3 linked regions of the Homo sapiens genome follow. The protein of the gene in region 3 interacts with the protein of the main gene of each other region in a biochemical or structural test. Each region holds a gene or a part of one and is shown on either strand. Other genes may lie near its edges.

Region 1 (3,650 bases), on a different chromosome or scaffold from region 3:
TGGAGAACACTGTGGCTGAAGGTGAGTGAGGAAAAGGTGCTTATAGGAGGAAATGAGGTTGCATAGAGATTTTATTCATTGATTTTAAGTGCTATGAGCATTCATTGGAGGATTTTGAGCAAAGCCAAAAAATTGGGTTATATTTTTAAAGAATGGCTCTGGGAATTCTTTAAAACACTGGGAACCATGAGATAAGCTAGGAAATGATTGGAATGATCTGGTTTAAGAGACATTAATGGCTTAGACTAGAGCGACAGTAGTGGCAATAGTGAAAGTTACTAGTTTCTGGCTTTAGAGAGTCAAATGTTTTGGATATGTTAAGTTTGAAGTGTCTGTTAAACGCCCAAGTGGACACATCAGGTAGGCAGTTAGATATGTAAGTCAAGCATTCAGAGGAGAGGTTTGGACTGAGGATAGTTAAATGTTAAGCATCACCAGTAGACTTAAAGGGATCTCTTGGCTAGGGAGTTAGACTGAGAAGAGATCCAAGAATTGAGAATTGGTACTTTCCACATGGAAAGCTGAGCAAAAGAGAAGGCGCCATCGAGGAGGATTGAAAAGTGGACAGTGGGGTGTGAGGAAACTGAAGAGTGTGTTGTCCCACAAGCCAAGTAAAGGAAGTATTTTTAGAGATAAGGAGTGATCAGTCCCCTGTATCACCTTTAATCACCTAAATACTTCATAAGAAATCAGGCAGTATCCTCTTTCTTTCTGAATGGTCTCTGAGAAAGCAATTTCCTTTTTTAAATCTGGTTTATCAACATGAATGTTCACAGTTATTCTCCCCTGGCAACTACTAAATCTAAAGCCCTGAACAAAGTTTTACTCATAAAGAGGCCAATGCTGTTTCCTACGTGGATGAGTATGGCAGCTGCTGCTGCCTCTGATGTTTGAACAGGAGAAGCGATGCTGTTTCATAGGAAGAATTTATCAGGAAGCTAGTGATAGTCCAGCTACCTCAGAGGTTTATTGTGGTAGCCAAACGAGGTAGATGTAAAAACCAAATGAAAGGTATAATTGCAGATAGGGGTCTCCTTCCCTTATTGCCCCAAGTGTGGTACCAACTTGATAGTGTTAGATTTGAAGAACTATGTTGGCAAATAAAAATATTTTTCATTTTGAGTCTGTAGGAATAGTTTTTTACTTCCTATGCACTCTATCCCGATAGGCAGTTTCGCACATCATTTTATAATATTCTTGAGGGTAGAGAAAAGGGCTAGAAAGAGGATAAGAACAACCAGGGCAGGCGCGGTGGCTCACGCCTGTAGTCCCAGCACTTTGGGAGGCCGAAGCGGGTGGATCACCTGAGGTCAGGAGTTCGAGACCAGCCTGGCCAACATGGTGAAACCCCGTCTCTACTAAAAATACAAAAATTAGTCAGGCGTGGTGGCGCAGGCCTGTAATCCCAGCTACTCAGGAGGCTGAGGAAGGAGAATTGCTTGAGCCCAGGAGATGGAGATTGCAGTGAGCCAAGATCACGTCACTGTACTCCAGCCTGGGCAACAGGGTGAGACTCCATCTCAAAAAAGAAAGAAAAGAACAACCAGGCTTTGAGATAATAGCTTTTTTTCCCAATCCTAAACTCATCCTTTAATTCTAAACAGTGTCTAAATAAAGAGAATTGAGGTAGAAAAGTAAGCAAGTTAAAAGGCTTCCTTACTTTTTTTTTCCCTAGGCCAGCCAGGAAGACTTTCTTCTTTTAACTGACTTTTTTCTGGAAAGTGTTCAACTGAGTAATGGTTTGTCACATGTTACATGGAATAGAAAAAGTGCAAATTCAAAGCTTAGGGACTGGTTAGGGGTTTTGAACTCTAGGCAGCCAGCTAGAAACTGATTTGAGGAAGCAGGAGGGTGGGGGAAATGAGTCTGCTTGATGATAATAGGGGTAAAGTGCAAAATACTTATTTTGGTGAAAAAGGAACATCGCAAATACAGGACTTTTTGTGGTAAGCTTTTTGAGGCAATAGGACTATAACTTCACAATACATAGGTATCTTGCAGACCTTATATAATATGATTTGCTATGGCTGGTCATTAAATACTTCTCCTTGGATAAAAAATGCATATAATGCATTGCAAATTGAAGGCCATTTTATTTTTTATATTACAAATCTAATCCTAATACATGGCAGAAAATTTAGAAAACAAGATTTTCTACCATTAAGTACTATCATAATCCCACTAGCCAGTAACCCTGTTATGTATTCTTGTCTATTCTGGTTTAATTTGGTAACATTTTATCATGAAGTTAAACTTTCTGGCTCTAACTTTTAATGTGGCATAGAATCTGTCTTCTCAAACATGTAATCTACTTACACACAATTTATGAAAATTAAATGTATTTTTAAAATTGTAAACAACAGGCCGGGCCCAGTGGCTCATGCCTGTAATCCCAGCACTTTGGGAGGCCGAAGCCAGCAGATCACTTGAGGTCAGGAGTTCAAGACCAGCCTGGCCAACATGGGGAAACCCTGTCTCTACTAAAAATACAAAAATTAGCTGAGCGTGGTGGTGCACACCTGTAATCCCAGCTACTCGGGAGGCTGAGGCAGGAGAATCGCTTTAATCCAGGAGGCAGATGTTGTAGTGAGCTGAGATTGCTCCACTGCACTCCAGCCTGGGTGGCAGAGCGAGACTCTGTCTCAAAAAAAAAAAAAAAAAAAAAAAGTAAACAACACTGTAATGGACATTTCTAACTCTGAATTTCTGTGCAAATCAATGTTTTTCTTTGATTTCAACAAATTATGCTTAAAATACAATGCAGATACAAATGCAGAATTCTACTAATTAAACCTTTTCTAACTTTTTAATAAAATTACCCCCTCCAGTTTATATCAGTTTATTCTTCTACCACTGGCATATGAAACTGTGTGTTTCTTCACCCCTTCATCAGTGCTGAATATTACGTATCTTTTTTAAAATTTGCTTTCTTTTTTCTTTTTTTTTTTGAGACGAGGTCCCGCTCTGTTACCCAGGCTAGAGTGGAGTGGTGTGTTCATGGCTTGCTGCAGCCTTTACCTCCTGGGCTCAAGGGATCCTCTCCGCTCAGTCTCCCAGGTAGCTGGGACTGTAGGCATGGGCTGCCATGCCCATCTAAGTTTTTTTGTTTTCTTTTCTTTTTTGTGTTTTTTTTGTTTTGTTTTTTGTTTTTTGTTTTTTGTTTGTTTGTTTTGTTTTCTTGAGATGGAGTCTTGCTCTGTCGCCCAGGCTGGATTGAAGTGGCGAGATCTCGGCTCACTGCAACCTCTGCCTCGCGGGTTCAAGCAATTCTTCTGCTTCAGCCTCCTGAGTAGCTGGAATTACAGGCACACACCACCACACCTGGCTAATTTTTGTATTTTTAGTAGAGACGGGGTTTCACCATGTTGGTCAGGCTGGTCTTGAACTCCTGACCTCGTGATCCGCTCACCTTGGCCTCCCAAAGTGCTGGGATTACAGGCGTGAGCCACCGCACTGGCCAAGGTTTTTTATTTTTTTATAGAGACAAGGTCTCATTTTGTTCCCTAGGCTGGTCTCAAACTCCTGGGCTCTAGCAGTTTTCCTGTCTCAGCATCCCAAAGTGGTGGGGTTACAGGCATGAGCCACCCAATCTGGACAGTTTTGCCACTTTGATGAACAACAACCAAAAAAAAAAACCTTATTTAAATTTC
Region 2 (3,650 bases), on a different chromosome or scaffold from region 3:
TTGGAATCAAAAAACATTGAGAAATATTAAGTATTTCCTTACCTGTTTCTTTAAATTTTCAACCATCTTCTGAACTGCAGCATTTTCTTGTTTTACAGTTTCCGTTTTTTGCCTAAAAGGAATGATGAAAATAAAATTTAATGGTTAGGCTTTAAAAGCTGAAGTAAAAGAATTTTAGTCTTTGCAAAAATGTCTTAGGAAAATGTAAGTATACGTCTTACCACATTTCTTCCTGAGATCCATTTAATGTCCCTAATTTCAGGTTAGAAATGCTATCTTCTTCATTTAAAGTAGTAATTTCATTTCTCAAAATAGAATTTTCCTGTTGAAGCTTTTCAGATTCATATCTGAAGCACAGAGATTGAAAAAAATTGTTACAAGGCAGTCATCTGGCATCTTTGGAAAATATTTTCTAGTAACTTCCAAAAGGATGAGTATTCAATGCCAGTTAAAAAGAAAAGTCTAAATTAGTAGTCTCTTAGTATTTGGAAATCGAGTTATGACATATTGACACATTTCTTTTGGGAAGTAAGAATTTCACTAAAAGATGTTAGAGAAGTGTAGCTAAAAAACCCTTAAGCCTGGAGAAATGAATCAAGACTCAATGCTCATTCTGGTTGTTGATTTTTCTCAATGGCAAGCATACTGCTTTGAGCAAATGTCTTCATTTATCTCAGTCTCAAGTCCTACCTGTTCTGAATACACATAAGCCATGTTACAAAGCTATATTAGCTTAGTTTTAGGCCCCTGGGTACCTAGGGAAAGAAAATTCTCTATTGAAATCAAAGGGCCACAATGAAATATGTACACTGTTTACTTTGTGATTTTATTCATCTCATTATATTCTGATTTTTAGGACTAAAAATGGTCTGAAGAAGAGGAAAAACTACATTCAGAATTAAATTATTTCAGAGACATTTCAGACGTCCTGTAATAGTTTACAAGTTTTTTTTTTTTTTGAAAAACCAAATTTGCTAGAAGACTATGCAATTATATTTTACAATGTCAAGTGGGCAGTGGTTCAAATTAATTCTACTTGTATCTCTGCTTTTCAAGCATATTTATTAGAATCTGGAGGCTCCTCAAATTATATGTTCTAAGATAAATTTCCACTGTTTGTTTTGTCTCTTTTTTTTTTTTTTTTTTTTTTTTTTTTTTAAAAGAGACAGGGTCTCACTCTGTCACCCAGTCTGGAGTACAATGGCATGATCATGGCTCACTGCAGCTTTGACCTCTCAAGCTCAAGCAACCCTCCCACCTCGGCCTCCCAAGTAGCTGGGACCACAGGTGTGCACCACCACGCCCAGCAAACATTTTTTTATTTTTCTGTAGAGGCAGTCTTGCTATGTTCCCTAGGCTTGCCTGGAAACTCCTGGCCTCAAGAAATCCTCTTGCCTTGGCCTCCCAAACAGTTGAGATTGCAGGCATTTAAGCCATGGTGCCTGACCATTTGCACTGTTTATGGGTTATCAGCATGTGCTTCAAGTGATATGAGTACAAAACTATAAAGACAGAACATTTTTTCTATATTAGCATAAGAAGTGAGTTCTTATCTACTAAGTTAATAATACACAAAAAATCATTCATTTGTATATAACATGTTTCCTCAAAATGAGGAAAGTAACACTTAGCAAAATAAAAAAAAAAAATCCCCTATCCATCTAAATGAAATAAGTGCTAGAAAAAAGTTAAAGAGGTACATTGAGGATGCACATGGTTAAACAGCAAACACTCGCCATTGTGAACTTTCACACCCCATATGAACACTTGTTTGCTACAGCGGAAGGGAATGCCTCCTAAACAAGGTTATTTTATTTGTTAATACGGCACAGAAGCAGAAGGAAGTCTAGAGAGTACTGCTCTCTTCGTGAAGACTACTAGGTTAGTTTCTCTAGGCACGGCAAGCAGTGGAAGTTAGATCTGGTGAGGTGCTCTGTGGGATTCGTGACGTCTAGAAGGTACATACATTACCTCAGAAGTTCAACTTTTTGCTGCATCTCACTGCACGTGATCTGCAAGTCATGCATCATTGCCTTCAGCTCTTCCTCCTTTTCTCCGTGAGAAAGTACATCTTTTTGCTTAACTAAAATAGTGACTCTCTCCTTCAACTTCCTAGTCAGCTCCTGTAACTTTGTTTTCTCCAGTTCTAACTCTGCTATGGTGGCCTGATGCTGAAAATGTTTGTCTTGAAAGCCTAGGAGAGTAGTGTTTTCCTCCAGTATAACTTGATTCTGTACTCTTGGCCTTTCTTGATGTGTCTGAATTGTTCCATGTAACCAGGCAATTTCATGTGCTTTTACTTTTTCCAAGAGCTGTGTGTTCCCCTCAAGGTACTGGTTTTCTTGCTTACATTCCTCTATGACATGATGTACACTCCTAACCCTGGGCACACACTCTTCCAGTGTCTGATTGAGCTGGAGTATATTTCCATCAGGTTCGATTTCCAGGTTCTCTAAACTGGCTTCCCATAAGCAGCAGTCACACCGCTGGACCACGCTTTCCTGAAGCTTCTCAATCTTGCCTTGAAGTCTCAAAACCAGAACATTCAGCCCCTCATTTTCTATTTTGACCTCATCGTAACTCTTTTCCAGGCTGAGGAATGTTTCAGTGACTTCCTCCATTTTCTTCAGCTCATCCTGCAACCTGAAAACCTCTGCAGTGAGTTCTTTGTTATTTTCTAGTGCCTCATCGTAGCGTGTCTCCATCATTCTCAGCTCTTCCTGAAGGCAGTCATTTTCTCGGCTCACATCTTCATACAACAGCTTATATTTGGGAGAAGCCTCAGGGATTCTCTCAAGCATCTTCAGTTTCTTTTTTAGCACAGAAACATCAAAAAGTAGGTCCTGTTTCTTTTCAGAAGCTCGATCACAGTCCGCACATAACATCATTAGCTGTTCCTGAAGCTGACTAATCTGATTCTTCAGCTCCCAGGATTCAGTCCTGGTCTCTTCACTGTTTTCAAGCTCAGAAAAACCCTCTACTGAAGCTTCAGACTCCTCTATTTTGACTTCCTGTCTCTGAACAGAGCTCGTCCCTGTACTTCCCAGGTCCCGGACCTCATCATCTTCCAGGTCACTTAGGACATGCCGCCTGGTCACACCTTCTACTTGCTTCGTTCGGTTTTGCTGTAAAAACTGCTCTGTTTGTTCCGCAGTATTTCCAAAAAACTCAGTAGCTGGCTCATCCAAACAAGAAGACATTACTAACCCTGGCTCTAACTTTTGTAGCCTCTGTTGCAATCTAGAAATTTCAGTAGCCATTTTCACATTTTCCTTCACTGCCTGTTCATGAGCTCTCTGCAGGCTTAAGAGGACGTCCCCATTTTCTTCCAACAGCTGCTCCCCTTGCTGAAGCAGGGACAGGGCTCCATCTCCTTCCACCTCCTCCTCTCCTATCACCTGGCAACCACTCTGAAGCATTGAGAGAGGAGATGTTGCCTGCTGCATTTCCTTTATTTTACTCTGAAGTCTGGAGATTTCTGTGCTCATCTCGGCTCTTTCTCGATCTGCTGTCTCACAGGTCGCTTTGTGAATGTTCTCCATGGCTAGAAGCTTGGACATCATTTCCTGCCTTTCCTGGTCATGTTCCATTTCTAGTCTTTCCAGCCGCTGGCTGGCCAGCTGCTCCGAAGCCCCTGCCTGGCACAGGAC
Region 3 (3,650 bases):
TCCTTCCCCAGGCAAGACTCGTGGCTGTGACCCATGGGCCTCTGAGGAGGCGTTGTAAGTCCGCCCAGCTCCCCACTTGCTGTGCTCTCACTCAATGCGAAGGGAACCAAGGTACCAGGGCCAAGTGGGTCCAGACATCCACACGGATTCTGAAAGGGCAGGTCAAGCAGGCACGTGGGGCCCAGGTTACCCCTTATTCCCCGCTGTGGCATGGGAAGCTGGGAAGGGCTGGGGGTTGGGGTATCATGGGATGTGCTTCCTTAACGGCTCCTTTGTGTCACTGCCAGACTTTGTCCAGCCATCAGCCACGGCCTCTCGACAGCACCAAGATGGAAGTCAAAGGTCAGCTGATCAGCTCTCCTACCTTCAATGCCCCAGGTCGGTGGCTGCTTCCCCTCCTGCTGCCTCCTCCCCTGCTCTGAATCACCACCTGCTTGCTCGGGAAGAGTTGGTCCCTTGCCCCACAGCTGCTCCAGAATGCCCTGGCTGTCCCACTGATCTTTGCTCCCTCTGTGTCCAGCTGCCCTGTTCGGAGAGGCTGCCCCCCAGGTGAAGTCAGAGCGTCTGCGGGGGCTGCTTGACCGGCAGCGGACCCTGCAGGAGGCCCTGAGCCTGAAACTTCAGGAGCTCCGCAAAGTGTGTCTCCAGGAGGCGGTGAGGGCCTGGCCCTAGGGGTATCAGGCGGGGAGGTTGGGAGGAGGTGAGGAGCTGGGGCCCCTAGGTAGACAGACTTGGGTGGCAATTCCTCAACCACTTGTCTTGGCTGTAGATTCCCTGTCACCTACTTTCTCCTCAAAGCTCAGCTTAGATGTGTTAGAATGAATGAAATAGGCTGGGCGCTGTGGCTCACGCCTGTAATCCCAGCACTTTGGGAGGCCGAGGCAGGTGGATCACCTGAGGTCGGGAGTTCCAGACCAGCCTGACCAACATGGAGAAATCCCGTCTCTACTAAAAATGCAAAATTAGGCTGGGCGCGGTGGCTCACGCCTGTAATCCCAGCACTTTGGGAGGCCGAGGTGGGCGGAACACGATGTCAGGAGATCGAGACCATCCTGGCTAACACGGTGTAACCCCGTCTCTACTAAAAATACAAAAAATTAGTCAGGCGTGGTGGCGGGCACCTATAGTTCCAGCTACTCGGGAGGCTGAGGCAGGAGAATGGCATGAACCCGGGAGGCGGAGCTTGCAGTGAGCCCAGATTGCGCCACTGCACTCCAGCCTGGGCGACAGAGCAAGACTCTGTCTCAAAAAAAAAAAAAAAAAGCAAAATTAGCTGGGTGTGGTGATCCTAGCAACTTGGGAGGCTGAGGCAGGAGAATCGCTTAAACCCTGGAGGTGGAGGTTGCGGTGAGCTGAGATTGCGCCATTGCACTCCAGCCTGGGCAACAAGAGCAAAACTCCACCTCAAAAAAAAAAAATATGGTAATACAGGCCCACTGTTGACAATTTCAAATCCAACAAACCTCAGAAAACAGGTTCTGTCCAAAATTTGGCAGCACAGTCTGACCTGAACTGGCACAGGCTGATCTGTAGTTTCAGTTTACCCCTCTTACTGTGAATGCCCACAGTGTGCCGGAAATAATACTACAGCTCAGACCACGCAGCCACAGCCCCTGAAGTGAGTTATATAATACTTAGGATCTCGATGGTATCACCTTTATAAAAACAAAACAATTCTGGATTCCAAAGCAGGTCTCCCTGCCTCCCATGCCCACCACCCCAGGGGTTTGGGCCACTGAGGTTTGGGCACACCTGCCTAGTGGAGATACTGGTAGGAGGGAGGGGAGTATCGTGCGTGGTTGCTGAGCAGGGCCAGGCTCCTGGTAGGACTTCTGTAGCTTCTGGGATCATTAATGCTTCACCCCATCCTTCCAACTAACCCTTGGTAGTCTCTGACCCCTGCCTCCCACCAGGAGCTGACTGGCCAGCTGCCCCCTGAGTGCCCACTAGAGCCTGGTGAACGGCCCCAGTTGGTCCGCCGGCGGCCCCCCACAGCCCGCGCCTACCCTCCACCGCACCCCAACCAAGCACACCACTCCTTGTGCCCTGCTGAGGTGAGCAGATGGGTGTGGAGAGCAAGAGGGTGGGAAGAGGGGACAGGTACAGAGGAGTAGCCAGGAGGAAGGTGTGGGGAGGGGGCTTGTGGCCAGGTGAGGGAGAGGCTAAGATGAGAAGGAAAAGGGCTTCTGGAGTTAGTTTCCTGTGATGAGGGAGGATGCTGGTCCCTAACTGTCAGGACAGGCCTCCAACCCTAAGGAAGATGAACAGACCCAGCCCTTCACCAAGAGAGGCCCTGACACGCCCCCTCCCCGGGGTGAATAGGTCTGAATAGGCTGCAGGAAGTGCAGGCCAGCCTCTACTGGGTTTGGCCCCGCCAGGTCCCTGTTCCTGGCCATTTCCAACATTTGGGTGGGCCCAACAGGAGCTGGCTCTTGAGGCCCTGGAACGCGAGGTGTCAGTGCAACAGCAGATCGCGGCGGCCGCCCGCCGCCTGGCCTTGGCCCCTGATCTGAGCACCGAGCAGCGCCGGCGCCGGCGCCAGGTCCAGGCAGATGCACTGAGGAGGCTGCATGAGCTAGAGGAGCAGCTCAGGGATGTCCGGGCCCGCCTTGGCCTCCCAGTGCTCCCGCTGCCCCAGCCACTGCCACTGTCCACGGGGTCAGTGATCACCACCCAGGGAGTCTGCCTGGGCATGCGTCTTGCTCAGCTCAGCCAAGGTGAGCATCCCCTGGTGAGGGTGGGAGAGTGGACACTGGCAAATGGACGTGGTAGGGCTGGGATGGGTGACTGGCCGGTGAAAACCGGGAGGTAGGCACAACTCAAGTGGCCCAACCCGTGAGAAGAGTTGTGACAAACTGGCTTACCGGAAAGGACAAACTGTGGGGGACTGATGAATATCTGCCAGGACAGTCAGGAACCAAACTGGGGTGGTCTTGGGCTCTGGTAAAAGCAGATTCTTGGGACAGGAACAGGATGAGGCGGAAACTGGCCAGAAGGTGGCCCAAGTAGAGGTGCCCACCCAGTGGTGTAAGGGGGCAGCACCCAGGCCTGGGAGTGAGAGGCCCACTTCTCCCCCTCTCACCTGTAGAGGACGTAGTTCTGCACTCAGAGAGCAGCTCCCTCTCAGAGTCTGGGGCCAGCCATGACAACGGTGAGGACTCCTATCCCCCAAACCTGCCCCCGACTCCTACGTCCCTTTAGCCCATCCCCTTTATTCATCCGACCACATCCTGCATGATCAGCCCATCCTTTGATGCCCAGCCCCTCCTGTGCTGCTTCAGCTTCTCCTTAGCCATGCTCCATCTTCCTATGGGTCCCCCATCTTCTTAGCCTCACCCCACCCCAGCCCCACAGCCCCAGAACCTACTTGTCAGCCTTAGTTCCTCCTCAGCCTGCTTAACCTGTCCCAGCACTTTGCCCCTCCCCATGGCCTTGCCCCCCAGCCTGTCCTGCCCCCTCTGGGCCCCCCTCATTGAATTCTATCCCACTTGCTCTCTTCCACTCAGAGGAGCCCCATGGCTGCTTCTCTCTGGCCGAGCGCCCCTCACCACCCAAGGCTTGGGACCAGCTGCGGGCAGTATCTGGGGGGAGCCCTGAGCGGCGAACCCCATGGAAACCACCTCCATCAGATCTTTATGGGGATCTGAAGA

The links.
Region 1: the proteins of CCDC120 (region 3) and CEP170 form a complex in vitro, tested with the Homo sapiens proteins (one study listed by IntAct).
Region 2: the proteins of CCDC120 (region 3) and NIN form a complex in vitro, tested with the Homo sapiens proteins (one study listed by IntAct).

The regions. Positions count from the first base shown.
Region 1 is NC_000001.11:243,245,244-243,248,893, reverse strand, and holds part of CEP170 (centrosomal protein of 170 kDa), read left to right. Parts: intron 1-3,650.
Region 2 is NC_000014.9:50,754,521-50,758,170, forward strand, and holds part of NIN (ninein), read right to left. Parts: coding exon 1,972-3,650; intron 348-1,971; coding exon 222-347; intron 113-221; coding exon 43-112; intron 1-42. UniProt on the Homo sapiens protein: Centrosomal protein required in the positioning and anchorage of the microtubule minus-end in epithelial cells. May also act as a centrosome maturation factor.
Region 3 is NC_000023.11:49,061,948-49,065,597, forward strand, and holds part of CCDC120 (coiled-coil domain-containing protein 120), read left to right. Parts: intron 1-11; 5' UTR 12-94; coding exon 95-157; exon of another isoform or gene 158-170; intron 171-287; coding exon 288-378; intron 379-520; coding exon 521-654; intron 655-1,913; coding exon 1,914-2,054; intron 2,055-2,422; coding exon 2,423-2,717; intron 2,718-3,088; coding exon 3,089-3,151; intron 3,152-3,506; coding exon 3,507-3,650. UniProt on the Homo sapiens protein: Centriolar protein required for centriole subdistal appendage assembly and microtubule anchoring in interphase cells. Together with CCDC68, cooperate with subdistal appendage components ODF2, NIN and CEP170 for hierarchical subdistal appendage assembly.